2 separate regions of the Homo sapiens genome follow, and region 1 is linked to region 2. Evidence: fine-mapped expression QTL. A gene starts in region 2. The other region holds a variant in brackets. All regions are shown on one strand. Distances are between the middles of the regions.

The links. PIP is the estimated chance that this variant, and not a neighbour inherited with it, causes the effect. A credible set is the group of variants that fine-mapping cannot tell apart.
Region 1: its variant is the best candidate, but not a certain one, in a credible set for the expression of GNAS in esophagus mucosa (GTEx, PIP 0.71).

The regions. Positions count from the first base shown.
Region 1 is chr20:59,383,384-59,391,890 of GRCh38, forward strand. No RefSeq gene overlaps it. Among named protein-coding and RNA genes, the nearest start is that of EDN3, 87 kb to the left of the region's middle. The variant G/C (reference allele first, on the strand shown) is at 4,977.
Region 2 is chr20:58,887,836-58,895,835 of GRCh38, forward strand. It overlaps GNAS (GNAS complex locus), which reads left to right and starts at 3,586. Exons shown (of 13, transcript NM_000516.7): 1 at 3,586-4,030; 2 at 7,777-7,849. The coding sequence starts at 3,892. LOC101927932 (a long non-coding RNA gene) reads right to left here and starts at 975. Exons shown (of 5, transcript NR_126334.1): 1 at 939-975. RefSeq lists enhancers at 704-923, 7,548-8,000 and silencers at 1,364-1,643, 2,844-2,993, 3,054-3,553, 3,564-3,783, 4,654-4,743.

The DNA of each region.
Region 1 (8,507 bases), 500 kb after region 2:
CCTGACAGAACCATGCTCTCAGGAGCCAGCACTCAGGGTGCCTGGGCTTTTTCTTAGAAGAGGTCTGGGATCTATTTCTGAAATAAGCTCTCTCAGAGAAATCTGACAGGTGCAGAATTTCAGAGCTACAAGCTGAGACAATGGCAGGGGCCTCCAGTAGCCGCCTGTCTCTGGGGCCCCTGGCCCACATGAGGCCCCTCAGGCCCGCACACGGTCTCCCTCCAGCTCACATGGCTCCACACACAGTCCCTCTGGCTCACACACAGTCCCTCTGACCCACACACGGTCCCACTGGCCCACACACCTCTCTTGGCTGCTGAGGTTTTGTGCTTCCACCAAGCCAGGGGACTGTTCTGTGGCCCTGGAACCACCGTGAAAGCAAACAACCCTCGGCTGTGTTGGGAGACAGCTCCAGCTCCTCCATCCTCAAATGTGAGAGCTGATGATTGGGGTGGAGGAGGAGGTGAGTGGGGAGGGGGTGGGGGAGAAGGAGGTGATGGGGAAGAGATGAGTGGGCAGGAGGTGAGCAGGGAGGAGGTGAGCAGGGATGAGTGGAGGAAGGAGGTGATAGGGAGGAGGTGAGTGGGCAGGAGGTGAGCAGGGAGAAGATGAGCAGGGGGGTGGTGAGCGGGGAGGAGGTGGAGGGGAAGGAAGTGATGGGGGAGGAGGTGGGGGGAAGGAGGTGATGGGGAGGAGGTGAATGGGCAGGAGGTGACTGGGGAGGAGGTGAGCAGGGAGGAGGTGAGCAGGGAGGAGGTGAGTGGAGTGGGGATGGGAGTGGAGTGGCGGGAAGGAAGTGATAGGGAGGAGATGAGTGGGCAGGAGGTGAGCAGAGAGGAGATGAGTAGAGCAGGGATGAGTAGGGGAAGGAGGTGATAGGAGGTGAGTGGGCAGGAGGTGAGCAGGGAGGAGGCGAGCAGGGAGGAGGTAGAGGGGAAGGAAGTGATGGGGAGGAGGTGAGGGGGGAAAGAGGTGGCGGGGGAAGGAGGTGATGGGGAGGAGGTGAGTGGGGAGGAAGGTGGGGGGAAGGAGGTGATAGGGAGGATGTGGGGGAGGTGGGGGGGAAGGAGGTGAGGCAGAGGAGGGGAGTGGGGAGGGAGATGAGTAAGGAAGTGATGGGGAGAGGGTGAGTGGGGAAGTGGTGAGAGGGGAGGAGGTGAGGGGGCAAGGGAGGCGATGCGGAGGAAGGAGGTGATGGGAAGGAGGTGAGTGTGTAGGAGGTAAGCAGGGAGGAAGTGGGGGGGAAGGAGGTGATGGGGAGGAGGTGAGTGTGTAGGAGGTAAGCAGGGAGGAAGTGGGGGGGAAGGAGGTGATGGGGAGGAGGTGAGTGTGTAGGAGGTAAGCAGGGAGGAAGTGGGGGGGAAGGAGGTGATGGGGAGGAGGTGAGTGTGTAGGAGGTAAGCAGGGAGGAAGTGGGGGGGAAGGAGGTGATGGGAAGGAGGTGAGTGTGTAGGAGGTAAGCAGGGAGGAAGTGGGGGGGAAGGAGGTGATGGGGAGGAGGTGAGTGTGTAGGAGGTAAGCAGGGAGGAAGTGGGGGGGAAGGAGGTGATGGGGAGGAGGTGAGTGTGTAGGAGGTAAGCAGGGAGGAAGTGGGGGGGAAGGAGGTGATGGGGAGGAGGTGAGTGTGTAGGAGGTAAGCAGGGAGGAAGTGGGGGGGAAGGAGGTGATGGGGAGGAGGTGAGTGTGTAGGAGGTAAGCAGGGAGGAAGTGGGGGGGAAGGAGGTGATGGGGAGGAGGTGAGAGGGGAGGAGCTGAGTGGGGAAGGAGGTAATGAGGACAAGGTGAGGGGAAAGGAGGTAAGGGAGGGGAAGGGGAGGGAAGGAGCTGAGCGGGGCAGAGCATGTCTCCTCTCTTTAAGCATCCTCTGTATTCTGCAGAGGCCAAGCAGTCTGGATGTTGGCCTTCCTCAGTGGCCCATGAAATAACTTTGCTCCCCAGATTCTGAGCATGGGTTAGAACACCAAGCCCCTGAGCAGCCCCATCTCTGGGCTAGGGCAGGGAGGGCAGGGTCCCCTTTCAGCCTCACACCTGGGATGCACTCGTAGGAACCCGCCAGGTGTTCTGCTCAACTTAAGGTCTCAAACACCAGCCCAGGGCATTGCCACCTTCCCACAGTCATGGTGATGACGAGCTTGGAGTCCTGCAGATGTCAAGGAGGGACAGGGCTGCACCCCTCACCCTAGCATCACTCCTAGGTCTGCAGGCCACAGAGGGTGGTGCTGGATTCGGTGGAGAAATGTGCATTTGCACTGGCTGTGCTCTTTACCGTGCACCTCTGGGCAAGTCCTCCTAGGGCCAATGGGAGGAATCGCAGAGGCTTAGACATGCAGCTGTCTTCACCGCATTCCTTCCTGCTCCCTCTGCTGTGACAGGCTGCTTCCTGCCTGGGAGCTTTGAGTTCAGAAAGCTGTGAGCTGTTTTCAATTCAAGGGGCAGGTTCTCTCTCTCTCTAAGGGTCCCTGTAGACATAGGAGGGAGGGCTGGGGGTGAGTTCAGTAGGGAGGCTTCAGACAAAACCCAAAGAGATGAGCTAGTTTCCTTCCTAGTTAGCCTAGGTGGCCAGCGCCCTGTGGCCACTCGAGCACGTGTCTCTCCTCGTCTGCTCCAGCATGGGGCTGAGACTCCTGTTCCAGGATTGGGGCTGTCGCTGGTCTCGCGTTCCTTCTTCTTGAAACTCAGACAACCCACCCCAACCTGACCTTTGGACGTGCAGGGCATCTGCTCAGAACAGGTTGTCCTCTTAGCCTATTGTTCAACCTTGCCTGGTTGTCCCAAACCTTGAGCCAATCTCTGTAGCCTCAAAGAATCTTAGACTTGGGAGGGAGGGTGGCCCGGAGGACCTCATGTCCTGCATTTGGGGACACAGACACAATCACGGCCTAATTAGACACAACTTGGCTCCCCTTCCATAAAGCTTGTTCCGTTTCACTTCCACCTGTGCTATTTTCATGTTTGTTTCTAAATAAATTCACCTCTTAAAAACATTAAATAGATTTCTTTACGCAGGGTCAGAAGTGGGAAATCATTACTCCTTGCCGTATTTAATAGACGGTAACTGAAAAACAGAAACCAAGTGTTACTAGCTGGAGACCCTTGCCTGAAGAGGATTCCGAGCCTGAGTCCAGCTTTGTTCACAAGGAAGGTTGTGAGTGTTCAGGGCCTGTGGATATATTAGACAGAGATTTTTCCTGTCATCGTAATGCCACGCTTTAGCAAATTCTGACCAAGTGCAGCCCTTCAAACTCCAGGGGGGAAACTGAGACACCAGGTAGAGAAAGGAGAGACACCAGGTCAAAGGGGAGTCTGATAGCTGGGCTCAGACACCAGCTGGAGCTCTTCTCCACACCTTTCCATTTCACTCACCCCCTCCCTCTGTGCCTCAGTTTCCCTCCTCTCCATTAGTCCAGGCTCAATAGCCATACAGGTGGCAGTGGTGGGGATCAGGTGTCAGAGAGGAGCAGCAAGCTCTGTCTCAGCTCCATGGTGGTCATTGGGGGCCCTCCAGTCCTCTCCCTTTGGCTGATGATGGCTGTCTCCACGTGTCAGCCACAGCAACCCTGTCCCCAGACACTAGCTGCTGTTGGAAGAGAAACATGCAAATTCCATCCATTCTCCTCAAACACAAAAGGGAATGTTTAAACTGGAGCCAGTCAGGGGTCGGGGGTGGAGGGAGTGGCCTCCATGAGGAATGCATGATAAATCCTCTCGCCTGGCTTCTTGGCTACATGAACAGTTTTATTTTTTCTCCCAACCCCTCCCAATTGTCCTCATGTTGGGCACTGTTTTGTGTGCCAGAAGGACAGGGAGAAGGACAGATGATGGCCCCACCGTCCATCACAATTCTGGCAACGCAGAAGGCCTAGAGAGGAGGCTCGGGGGGGCTGGGGTGCAGGGCTCCAGGGTTTGTGGGGAAAGCTGTTTGGGAGTCACCACAACATCCATCATCAGCTGTCATGTGCATGCTGTTCCACCTCTCTGTTTATTTTCTGAGCATCTCCAAGAGCCTGGGACACCAGGACAGGGCATGGCGGGAGGAGATGTTTGTGTTTCTCCAAAGAGAGCTTACCGTCTTGTGAGGTAGCAAGAGAAAATGCTGAGGAGGTGCTGATCATCAGGTGGGAGCTCCCTGTTTTGGTTCAAGAGGGGCCATAACAAAGGGTACAGTTAACTGCAGCTGTGTAGTGACAGGATAAGGAAGTTTCCTTCTTTCCTTACAAAGACAGACTAGGCAACAACGCGAGACCCCGTCTCTACAAGAAAATAAAATAAAATAAATTAGCCGGGTGTGGTGGTGCATGCCTGTTGTCACATCTGAGGCTGAGGCAGAAGGATGGCTGGAACCCAGGAGTTCGGGGCTGCAGTGAGCTATAATGGCACCACTGCACTCCAGCCTGGGTGACAGAGTGAGACCCTGTCTCTAAAAAACAAAACGAAGAAAGAAATGCCCAAATGTCTCACCCCCTGCACATTTTTAGAGTGCTTCTCAGTTTTTCACTGCCAACTTGGTGTCCCTAATGGGTCTTGGCAGTAGGGATGGAAAGAAGGGGTGTGGGAAGTCAGTAAGAGAAGATAAATTGCCCCAAAGTTATTAATTCCATTAGTTCATAGGGCCATACCCCTTTCCTTTCTCTCCTGAGCGGCACTTCAGCTCGGAAGGTACAGGTAATCCCTTAAGTGCTTCATCAAAGAGAATAAAGAACATGGAGCAATCACTCCTTGGCTGAGATATTAAAAGAATAAATTCAGGTTGGGTGCACCACCTTGGTTGTCAAAGAGAGGCCATATATCACACCTAAAGGACATTCACCAGTGTCAAAAAGAACGAGCTGTCTTTCTCCCCAAGGGAAAATTGCCTGTGGTGGAGGGAGATTCATTCAACTGGGTTTTTGCAAGTCAGGTCAAGAAGAGGAGGGTGCGACCAGGTTGATCACATCTGAAATATGATTGGCAGACAGCTAAGTGACCTCGGTGAGAAG[G/C]GAAGTAAATTACCTTTTGGTTTCAGGTTTTCTGAAAAGCTGTGAGCCAGGCCCTTTGGCACAAAGTACATGCTAGGGGGTCACCTCCATCATGGGGAGCATCATCTGGGGCTGCTGGGGTGGTCAGGACCCTCACAGGGATGCCCCTACCTGCTCAGAGAGCTGCTGGCTGGCCCAGAATGGGCGCTGGATGCTGCAGATGCAGTTGTCAACACAGATGTCCGTCATCAACGCCTGCCTGCCCTGGAAGCGAGGTTGGCAGGAGCAGCTTAGGGTCTGACCTAGGCCTTCCCTGGGAAACCTACCTTCATCCCAGCTCTGGTCTGCATTTTCCACAACAACCAGAGACCCTTTCCAAACACAGCTGGGAGGCCAGGCATGGTGGCTCATGCCTATAATCCCAGCACTTTGGGAGGCCAAAGTGGGTGGATCCTTTGAGCCCAAGTGTTCGAGAGCAGCCTGGACAACATGGCAAAACCCCATCTCTATAAAAAAATAAATAAATAAAATTAGCTGGGCATGGAGGTGTGTGCCTGTAGTCCCAGCTACTAGGAAGGCTGAAGCAGGAAGATCATTTGAGCCTGGGAGGCGGAGGTTGTAGTGAGCCAAGATTGTGCCATTGCATTCCAGCCTGGGTGACAGAGTGAGATCTGCCTCAAAAATAAAAATAAAAACACGACTGGGCCATATCACGCCTTTGCTTGAAATCTCTCCCATGGCCCGTGACTTTTCTTAGGGATAAAATTCAAGTGAACTGTGAATGAGTTATAACCCCAATACTATACCATTGCCCCAGGAGTCTCCCACAAGACAGAAGACAGCTCTAGGAGTTTCCTGGGGGCTGCTGTACCAAGTGACTACAAACTGAGTGGCTTATAACAAGAGAAATGTGTTCTCTCACCATTCCAGAGGCCAGAAATCCAAAATCAAGGCGTCAACAGGGCCAAGCGCCTTCTGAAGCCTCCAGGAGAGGCTCCTTCCTGGCCTCTTCCAGCTTCTGGTGGCTCTGGGTGTCCTTGGCTGGTGGCCGCATCCTCCCATCTCTGCCTCCATCCTCTGCCTCCGTCCTCACGTGGCCTTCTCCTCTTCTCTGTGTGTCAGGCCTCACTCTGCCTCTCTCCTGCAAGGATGGCTGTCATTGGATTTAGGGTCTGGCAGGATAATCCAGGGTGATCTCATCACAAGATTCTTCACTTAATCACATCCACAAGGACATTTTCCCCATAAGGTCACAATAACAGATTCTAGGGATTATGATGTGGACACATCTTTTGGGGGTTACCATTCAACCCATAATAGTAGCTGGTTGTTTAAAGCTGGGGTCCCCAGGAAGCAGACCCTAGACAAGGCTTTGAGGGCAAGCAGCCGCTCTGGGAGGCAATCCCAGGTAACAGCCCTAAGACCCCGAGAAAGCGGTAGAGAGGAAAGAGTGAAGTAATGCTCTCAGCGCATCACAGCAGCGAGTGACCCAGGCTGGTTCTCACCAGGGGGCTCTGGGAGATGGTGCCGGGCAGGCTGTGGGGCAAGGAAACTGGGGTCTCATTCAACTCCCACCATCCTTGGCTCAGGGCTGCTTCTGGGCATGAGAACTCCATGGTGCCTCCAGTTATGGGAGATCCCAGAGGAGAGTCGCTGGTGTTCACAGAAGGACATTGTTGGAATGTTCTGGAACTGAGTGCCAAGGGCATATGGGCACGTACAGCAGCATCCCTGACCCCAGTCCTGGCGAACTCCCCTTTCTTTCTTCCTCCGGGCTCCAATGTCACAGGATGCTGCAGAAGCCCGTGTGGGCAGGACCCAGCCCAGATCCTCAGGGCTTCCCTGGGACCCCACACGATTCCTCTCCATTCATAAGCTCCCCCTCCCAGCCTCTGCCTCCTCCAGCCTCCTGGATGGATCTAGGTGGTCTCCGATTGGTGTGCTCGGGACACCATATTAGTGGAGGGAGGGAGGTTTAGATCCTGCTGGGGACAGGGAGAGACAGAGGCCGATGGTGGTCAGAGGGGCCATTTGCTGTTGCCTCCTCCCCCTGAAGGTGCCAGGGCTAGAGGTAGCTGGAACATCACCTGGGCTTCAGGTAGTGGTGTGGCCTCAGCCTTCCAACCCCAAACCAGATATGCCTTTTCCCCTGAGCTGACAGTGGGAAAGTTGGCTCGGACCCAGAGGATGGAGTCCCGTCTGTGTGAACACAGCAAGCAGAGATACCTGCGGCCCTGGAGGCAGCTTGGTCCAGGAAGCAGAAGCCTGGGCTACACATGGTATGAACAGTGATCTGCATTTCATTAACTCTGCCCCCAGGCTATTGGCTGCCACCAAGTTTGCTGTCCTGGTGAGGAGCAGGCAAGGGGTACAGAGATGGGAAGCAGGGCCCCGTCTGGCATTTTTACCAGGGGTGACGCTGCTTCTTCACTGAGCCAAAGTAGAAACTGGGCAGCAGAAGGAAACGGTTCTCCCTAAATAACCTTGGGCAGCTCCTGAGCTGGGTACGTGGCTCTCCGATGCCACATCTGTTCTTCCTGCTTCCAGCAAAGACTCCAGCCCTGCTTTCCATCTGCGACCTTCAGAATGGGCTTGACTCCCCACCTGGAACCACAGTGGGTGCAGGACCCAGGCTGGGTAAATCAGAGTCAGCCATGGGTCAGAGATGGACACATGGCCCAATCAGGCCACTGAGTGTCAAGCCCTGGGCTCCTGGCAGAATCTGTGCAGAAGAATCTCTCTCTTTCCTCTGGCCGCTAACATAGGCGACACAAGCCTGGAGCTCTTGTGGCCCCTGTGGCCTCCTGAGCAGAGCTGGGCTGGGAATGAGGCCTCAGAGAGGGCACTGGAGCCGGGAGGTGGAGAGACAGGGGTCTGATGATATTCAGCAGCCAGATCCAGATGTGAAGCCCAGCCTCTCCTCCGGGACTTTCCGGTTACATGAGCCAACAGATTTGCCTGCTTCGAGTTGAGTTTCTGTCACTTGCAACCTAATGAGTCCTGACTATGGCAGTTACTTAACCTCTCTGAGCCTCAGTTTCTGAGTCTATAAAATGGGAATAAAAGTGGTACTTTATATGGTTGTTCTTACATACGATGCTCTGAGGATGTAGTTTGTGAGAAGGCAGTGGGAATGCAGTAAGTTTAATCAAGGTTTGTTGAGTGAGGGAAATTCAGGAAACTTCTGTCAGTCACTTTAGCCAATTTGAAGCTCTCCCTTTTTTGTGCAAAGACAAACTACAGCTTACTCAACTGGTACTAATTTATCTAGGTTCAGCATTTGATTTTATTGGGCCTTGGATTTTCATCTATTTTGTGTCTATCTCATTGCTCCAAACTAGTACAAGCTCCTGAATTGCCAGGGCCACTTCTTATTCCTCCTGGGATGATCAGGTTGGGCGGGCCAGGGTGCTGCTTTAAAAGTCAGATTTTGCTTCTTTAGTCTTCCCTATTGTTAATGAACAGTTTTTGGATGTCACTTTGTGCCTAGCTTGTTCTAAGTGTTTATGTTAGTTAAGGGTTTTCTGTGTCTATAGAAGGAAAAATTCAAAC
Region 2 (8,000 bases):
GGCCTTGTACAATGGGGGCAGCAGTGTACCTGAAGGGGCCAAGAAAAATAATATGTGGCATCTTCATCTGTCACACCTTTTCTTACTCGAAGTGGAGCAAACTGGGGAAAAGGGGGGAATTTCAGTCATCCGGTTGAATGGCTAACAGTGTCTTTTTATTTTCAAAGCTAACTTAAAATGATACAAGTTTGCTCAAGGCCTCTGGTGGTATCAGCCGCCCCATACCCCTGGGGACTGTTAAATGTGTTTCCATTTATAGGTAGACTTTTCTTTTTTCTCCTTCTCCATCAAACATCTTAAGTTTCATGGGCTCTGTTAAGAAGTCAAAGAAAAAGTTGGAAGACAGTTTGTGGACTTTGCATATCTGGGCTTTCCGGGACGTAGGCCTGTGTCCCATCCAAGACACTGCTCACGTCTTAGCCTGATTACCTGGCCGCCTCGGCTCACCTGGGCACATGGTGAGCCGCGGAACTGGCAGGCACCAAACATTTATTGAATGAATAAACCGTATCCCAGCAGACACCATGGTGGCAGCAGATGACCTAACCAAGGTCCCAGGAAAGGCGGGCTGGGGTCAACTGCTTGAAAATTTAGTAACCCTGCTCCTAATCCCGTGCACTGCTATATCCTAGTGTGCGGCGGGACACTTGAGAGTTTTGAAAGAACCCTCAAACAAGTTCACGTTCCGTAAACTACTTTTCCCTCTGTTCCAGAGCCCCCAGGGCGCCCAGGCAAGGCCGCCACCTCTCCCACCTGGGAGGACGCCTCGAGCACCGACTCCACAGCCACGGCCACCGCTCCTCGGCTCCCGTGACACCGGCGCGCCTGCTGCTTCGAGCAGGGGAGGCTTTGCACTCCCATCGCACTTTTCTCGTCCGAAGATACGAAACTCCGTCCGGGCGTCGCAAATAATTCGAATTCGGCTCTCTGACACCTACCTCGGCGGGCGCGCGCCGCTGGGAGGGCGGGGTGGGTGGCTGGAGGTAAGGAGGCGCACAGCAGGGGTAAGCGCCGCCGTCGCACACTTTGCACGCCGCCCAGGGCTACACCACTCACCGAAAATTGGGAGGCAGGTCTGGGAGGCGGGGTTGAGCGCCCACCGCCTTGGGCGCGCCCGCGCCCCCCGCCATCGCGGCCCCCGCGCCCCCGGCCCACGCCCGCGCGGTCCCGGCACCGGCCTGCACCCCCAGGGTGCGCGGCGGCCCATTTGGGTGCGTCCCCGGTGGGCCGATTTTTCGCGCTTCCCCTTCGGTTTATAGGGGCCGCTGCTATGGGTCGGTCCTCTGAAGAGGCTGGGGCGTCATCGGGGCCGGTTAGAAGCTCTGCTCCCCGGCGGGGACACTCAGTCGCGTCGGCACCGCGGAGCGGGCTGCGTCAGGTGGCTGGCCGGCGCGGCGCTCCCCTGCTCTCTGGCTCCGGGCTGCGGCGCGGCGGCTGGAGCGAGCCCCTGTCCCGGCGCGGGGCGGCGGCGGGCGGCCGGCAGGCGCTGCCTTGCGTGTGAGTGCACCTCACTCACATGTAAGTCGGGGAGCGCCGGGGCCTCCCGCGGAAGTGCGAGTCGCCCGGCGCAGGCAAGAGCCGCCGGGTCCGGGACAAGGCAGGGGCGCCCGGGCGCCGCTGCCTTGCCCCGGGGCGCCTCCGGGCACCCCCCAATTCTCTCTCTTTTCTCTTCTCCATTGGCGTGCCCAAGAGCCAAACCAAGGAGCGCCTGAGGGTAAACAGACTCCTGCCATCCGCGCCTTTGCACTTTTCTTTTTGAGTTGACATTTCTTGGTGCTTTTTGGTTTCTCGCTGTTGTTGGGTGCTTTTTGGTTTGTTCTTGTCCCTTTTTCGTTTGCTCATCCTTTTTGGCGCTAACTCTTAGGCAGCCAGCCCAGCAGCCCGAAGCCCGGGCAGCCGCGCTCCGCGGCCCCGGGGCAGCGCGGCGGGAACCGCAGCCAAGCCCCCCGACACGGGGCGCACGGGGGCCGGGCAGCCCGAGGCCGGGGGCAAGCAGGGAGCCCGGGCCAGGCGCGAGCCGAGCTCCCCGAGGTGGCCGGGCCACCATGCTGAAGATGGCCATGAAGCTCAAAGCCCGGGCGGCGGAGAGCGAGAAGAAGACGGCCGCGGCGGCTGCCGAGGTGGCTGCCGAAGCTGCGGCGGCGGCTGCGGCGTTGGCCGAGCCGAGAGAGCCGCTCGCGCCGCGGAAGAGCGGGGACCCCGAGAAGCTCGCGAAGAACCCCAAGAACCCGGCGCGGGAGGCGCTCCCCGAAAAGTTCCTAACAGACAAGGAGCGCAAGAAGCTCGAGAAGAAGCTGCTGGAGCAGAGGCGAAAGGAGGAGAAGAAGAAGGAGAAGGAGAGGAAGAAGATGGAGAAGATGCTGAAGAAGAAGAAGAAGAAGGTGCCAGAAGCCCAGGAGGAGGCCCGATGCCCCGAGGCCGCCGCCGCCGCGGCCGCCGCCGACGACGACGAGGGCGCCGAGGAGGGCGCCGTCGGGGGCGCCGAGGAGGGCGCCGCCGCCGGGGGCACGAGTAGGGCCTGGGCTGACTGGGACACGGACTCGAGCGACGAGGACGACGCCTACTACGCGGCGCCGCGCGTTGGGGGCATCGTGTGGCGGCCCGGGCCGCTCAAGGCTGGCGCGCTGAGCGCCCACCTGCCCCTCGTGGTGTTCCTGGTCTTCTCGGTGCGCAGCCCCTCGTGGGTGCTCAACTTCCTGCTGCAGAAGCGCACGGAGCAGGGCCGCGGCTGCGGCTTCGTGTTCGGGGCGACCTGCTGCTTCCGAGTGTTCCTGGGCTGCGCCTTCTTCTCCTACTTGGGCGGCCGCGCCAAGCGCAGAGGCCGCGGGCGCTCCGGGGCCAGAGGCGCCTTCGGCTCGGGCCATGGCGCCCGGCGCCGGGGGCGCGAGGAGCGGCTCATCTAGTCAGACCCCCCACCCCGCCACCGCCACCAGACACCACCATCGCTGTGTAGTGTGGGTTTTTATTCGTGTTCGTGTGTGTGTGTGGACACATTTTCCTTTTCGGTTGCTCTGTCCTTTGGTTCGTGCTCGCCTCGCTTTTTCCACACTCCTGCTCTCTGGCTCTCTGTGTCTCTCGCTCTTTCGAAAATTTTCCTAAGTCCGGGCGCGCGCTCCCTCCCCTTCCGCCCACCCCAGCCCCTCGGCGGCGCCCGCGGGAGGGGGAGGAGGCCTCGGGGGCGCCGGGCGACGCGGTCCGGGGGGTGGAGCGTTGGCGTCGTGCGAGGGGTCGTCACTGGCGCGGAGACGCCCCCTCTCCCCCCTCGGCTCAGCCGGGCTGCTGCCCGAGCCCGGGGGGTGGGGGGCGTCTCCCCGGCCCGTCCCGTCCCCGGCCGGGCGCGGGCGGAGGGACCCCCTCCCCGGGCTCCCGGGGGGCCGCCTCCCTCCGCCGGCTCCCGCCCTCCCAGCCGCCGCCGCCGCCGCGGCCGCTCCTCGGCCCTCCTCCTCCTCCTCCTCCTTCCACCCCCCTCGCCGCCGCCGCCTCCTCCTCCCCCCGCCTCCCCCCGCCCGCCGCGGCGCTTTTGGCTCGGGGCGGCGGCGGGGGCCCGGCCGAGGCAATAAGAGCGGCGGCGGCGGCAGCGGCGGCAGCAGCTCCCGCAGCTCCTGCTCTGGTCCGCCTCGGCCCGGCGGCGGCCATCAGCCCCCTCGGCCTCGGCTCGAGGGGCGGGGAGCTGCGCGCGCCCCTCGGTCCGACCGACACCCTCCCCTTCCCGCCCGTCCGCGCGCCCCGCGGCCCGCGGCCCGCAGTCCGCCCCGCGCGCTCCTTGCCGAGGAGCCGAGCCCGCGCCCGGCCCGCCCGCCCGGCGCTGCCCCGGCCCTCCCGGCCCGCGTGAGGCCGCCCGCGCCCGCCGCCGCCGCAGCCCGGCCGCGCCCCGCCGCCGCCGCCGCCGCCATGGGCTGCCTCGGGAACAGTAAGACCGAGGACCAGCGCAACGAGGAGAAGGCGCAGCGTGAGGCCAACAAAAAGATCGAGAAGCAGCTGCAGAAGGACAAGCAGGTCTACCGGGCCACGCACCGCCTGCTGCTGCTGGGTAAGGGCGGGCGGGGGGCGCCGGCCCCGGCCCGGGGGCCCTCGAAGGGCGCCCCGCAGGCCGCGCGCGCCGAGCCCGCCCCCCGCCCCGGGCGCGCGCTCCCGAGCCCCCCGCCCGTTCGCGGGCTCTGTCTGTGGGGGGCGAGGCCGGAAGGGGGACCCAGGGGCGCGGATTCGGCCGGGCGGGGGCTCAAAAACGGGGCGGGGGGCCGTGGCGACGCGGGCGCGGGTCCCCCTCCCCCGGCCTGCCCGCTCAGTGTCTCTCTCTTGCTCTCGCTCTCGCTCTCCCCCTCTTTCTCTCTTTCTCTCTTTTTCCGCGAGGCCTACACGACGCCAGGGGTTTGGGTGCGTGTTGGGGAGGGGGAGGGGGAGCCCATGGGGCTCCGGAGACTGCGACAAAAAGAGGGTTTCGGGGACAGGAAACCGGGTGGCGGGTAGAGGGAGGGGGACCCGCCTCCGTGGGGTGTGAGATTTGTTGGGAGAGGGAAAGAGGGGAAGAAAGGGGCGAGGAGAGGAGGGGGTGACGCTGGGGGGCGCCGTGGTGGCGGAGGGGGCCTCGCCAAAGGGAGGCTTTGGCGGGGAGAAGTGGCCGAGGAGAGTGGGGGGGCTGGTGACATCAGCCCCTCGGAAAGGATCGGAGCGGTAAAGGTGGTGCAGTGGGGGGGAGGGGGCGCAAGGGAGTCGTGGCGCCGGAGTCGGGAGGGGGGCGGCGAGGGGAGGAGGGAGGGCGGTTGCCGCTGGGCGCGACTTGGTGCGTTTCGGGCAGGACCGACTGACTGTGTGTGCGCGGAGCAGACGTGTCCCGGGCCAGGCCGGGCCGTGGAAGGAGGAGAAGGAGAGTCAAATAAAATAAGACCACCCCCCAACACCAAAAAATGGATAGAGTTAGTACGAGAAGTGCCCAGTGAAGCCAAATGACACGTCATTTTACAGTGTGACCTTTTTTTCCCCTTCCAGACTTGCAGGCTTTTTCAAAAGCAGAGCGGAGAATTAATTGTAGCAGCTGCCCCCCCCACCCACCACGAGCAGCGCCCCCCCAACACTATTTTAATAAACCATTAAAAAAAACACATTTTCCTGCTGGCTGGCCACATTGAGAGTGCTTTGTGAAAAGAAAAAACAAAGACATTCACAAATCAGATAAAACTGGAGAATGACATTTGTCTGTAAATGGCTTCTTGGTCTGGAAATGGCGTGGTTTCTTTTTTTTTTTTTTTTTTTTTTTGTCCTCCTCAAGGTGGGAGGGGGGATTGAGAGTGCTCTAAGGAGACTTTTCCTCCAGGTGGGAAGAGATAAAAAGACATTAATTAGTTGTTTATCAAGTGACATTTAGTTGTTTGGTTTTGGGTTTTCTTTTTTTGATTGCGATTTTTCCTCTGATTAAAAAAATAATAATAAAATAAAAAAAGGTTAACTATAAGGAGATGGCCTTTCCTCCTTTTTTTTCTTAAGGTGCTGTTTTGGGGGAAAAAAATGTAATGAAATGACCAAAAGAATTACACAGCATTAATTAAAAATGGAAGTTTTCCACTTCCTTGATAATTTGGCTATCTGAATAAATTTGTGAATTTGCTAGGTTAAGACCTAGTTCGTGGTCACATTTCAACAAAACAGCTTGAGTATAAAGAAAATAATAAAAGGCTGTTCTTATTTATTTTCCTTTGGTGGCTTTTGGTTTGCTCTTTTTGCATAGGTCATGACTTTGTTCTCCTGGGTCCAGATTTATAAAAGCAGAAAATTACTAATTAAGTCAAAATAAGTGTCTTTGGTGTTTATGCATTTGCAATTTCAGTAATTAAATGGTACATGTGTTGCTGTCTTGTCTAAAACTTTTAAAGGCAGAATTATGCTGTTGGGATATTAGTATGCGTATAACTTGATTTCAAAGTATAAATCTGGAAAAGTCTAGAATCTTTTCTGTGAATGCTATCTCAGTACTACTTTAAGTCAAGTGTGATGCTAATGATATCTTAAAATTTCCAACACCTTTTGTGCAGTGATCACAAAGTCTCCACTTAATTTGAGACTGTTACTCAGAACACGCCTTGCGTCACGGGGGCTAATCTAAGTGTCCTAGTCTATATGACTACATTACATCATGATGTATTGATTGCCTCTGGCCTAGGAATCTGCAGCTTAAGCCAGTGACACAATATTTTGCATTTTTAAATGGTGATTCTCACCAAATAATGCCTCCCCACAAAAGAGGAAACCTAATAATGCCCCAAATCCTCTTTTTACTCCATCTTAATGACATAAAAATTAAGTGAATTAGAGAACTACAATGATCTTAAAATAATTTTTCAGCCACATTTCATAAATGTGGAAACTGAGGCACGGATCTGTTTTTGCCTATGAAAGATAGGTCCTGTAACTGTTACACAGTTTAACACTTCTGAAATTAGAATATTAGAGATCCTGCTAAATATTACGTATTGTTTCCTTGGCCTCTCTTAATAGTGCCATTTATATTTTTAATTTACCAGAGTTAGGCTCATTAAGATAGTGTTTGCTTTGAAATCAATGTTTCTGTGGAAACTAATTTTAACTTTTACAGATATTGATTACGGGCTTGTGAAAAGGCAAGTAAAGGAGGAATGCTGTGCTATCTGGGCATTAAAACAAAACAATACAATTAAAAGTTAAAAAGAAAGAAAAAGGTAATAACAGATTTGTGTGGAAGGAGGGCAAAAAAACTTCACACGTGGATTATCTGTTGGAGAATGTGCATTGCAAAAAAGATGCAAAATAGCAATCCTCCCTCTAGCTTGATGGAAATGTGTTTTTTCCATGAAACATATATGTATTTTTACAAATGAAAGATGATTTAAAATGGAGGCATGTGTTTCTACTCTTTGAGTTGGGAAGGGCTTGGAATCTTTCAAATTCAGTACTTCCCAGGGATAGTTTTCCTTTTGATTAAAGTTTTGTTCTTATGTTACTTTTTACTGTTGTTTTTGCAGTTTACCTAATGCTAATAGGGTCTCAGGAACTGTATTTGATGTTAAAGTGTGGTTTTTCCAGAAGATGACAGATAATTGATGGTCTCCCCTTTTCCTCAGCAACATAGTTGTACCCAGAGGGAATTTATCTTTAGAAAGATATAGTTTGTGAGGAAAGAGGAGGATGGATAAGTGGATAAAATGTAATGCAGTTTTAGGGGTGGATTTTTAAGTAGCCCAAGGGGTAGGAAACCTGCACAGAAAGAAGCTGCGTTGTGAAAATGTTGAGGAGGAAAGTGCTGCATCGCTACGTGATGTGGAAGAGACTGCAGTGTCTGGGCATTGTTGGGAATCCCGGGTATTTTAACCATGAAACATCTGACAACAAATTATGTGTCTAGATATGTTTATGTGTGAATGTTCATGTATCAGGGATTCAGTTTCACAGTTTTAACTTCAATTTTCTTGTTTACCCCACAAATGACAAAATTGCGTCATTCCTTCTCTTTGCCCCTTTCCAACACCACCCCACAATTTTTTAAACAATCAAAAGAAAAATTAAAACCAGCAAACCTTAAATTCTTGTTTGTTATTTGGATGGTGAAATACTGCAGGTAGACACTGAATTGGACATTGATTTCCTTTTCTCTGCGTCGAAATGTCAAGGAAAGTTGCAAGTCTGTGATTTTGTGTTTGGTTTTTTGCATGTTGCTTCTATGGAAAAACAAAACAACAACAGCAGACCTCCCTGCCCAAAGTGTTAAAATGCCTCCTTCATAACCTGAGACTTACTTTCATTTTCTAGGTGCTGGAGAATCTGGTAAAAGCACCATTGTGAAGCAGATGAGGATCCTGCATGTTAATGGGTTTAATGGAGAGTAAGTGTCAAATCTGTGCAGGGGGGCACCAAGTAAGAGGAACAGACTTTATACTAACCTTTAGGAAGTATAGGTGGGCTTTGGGGGCTGGGCAGCCAGTTTTCACTTAATTTTTCCTGATTTACATATTAGAAAATCCTGGGAAGGGCTC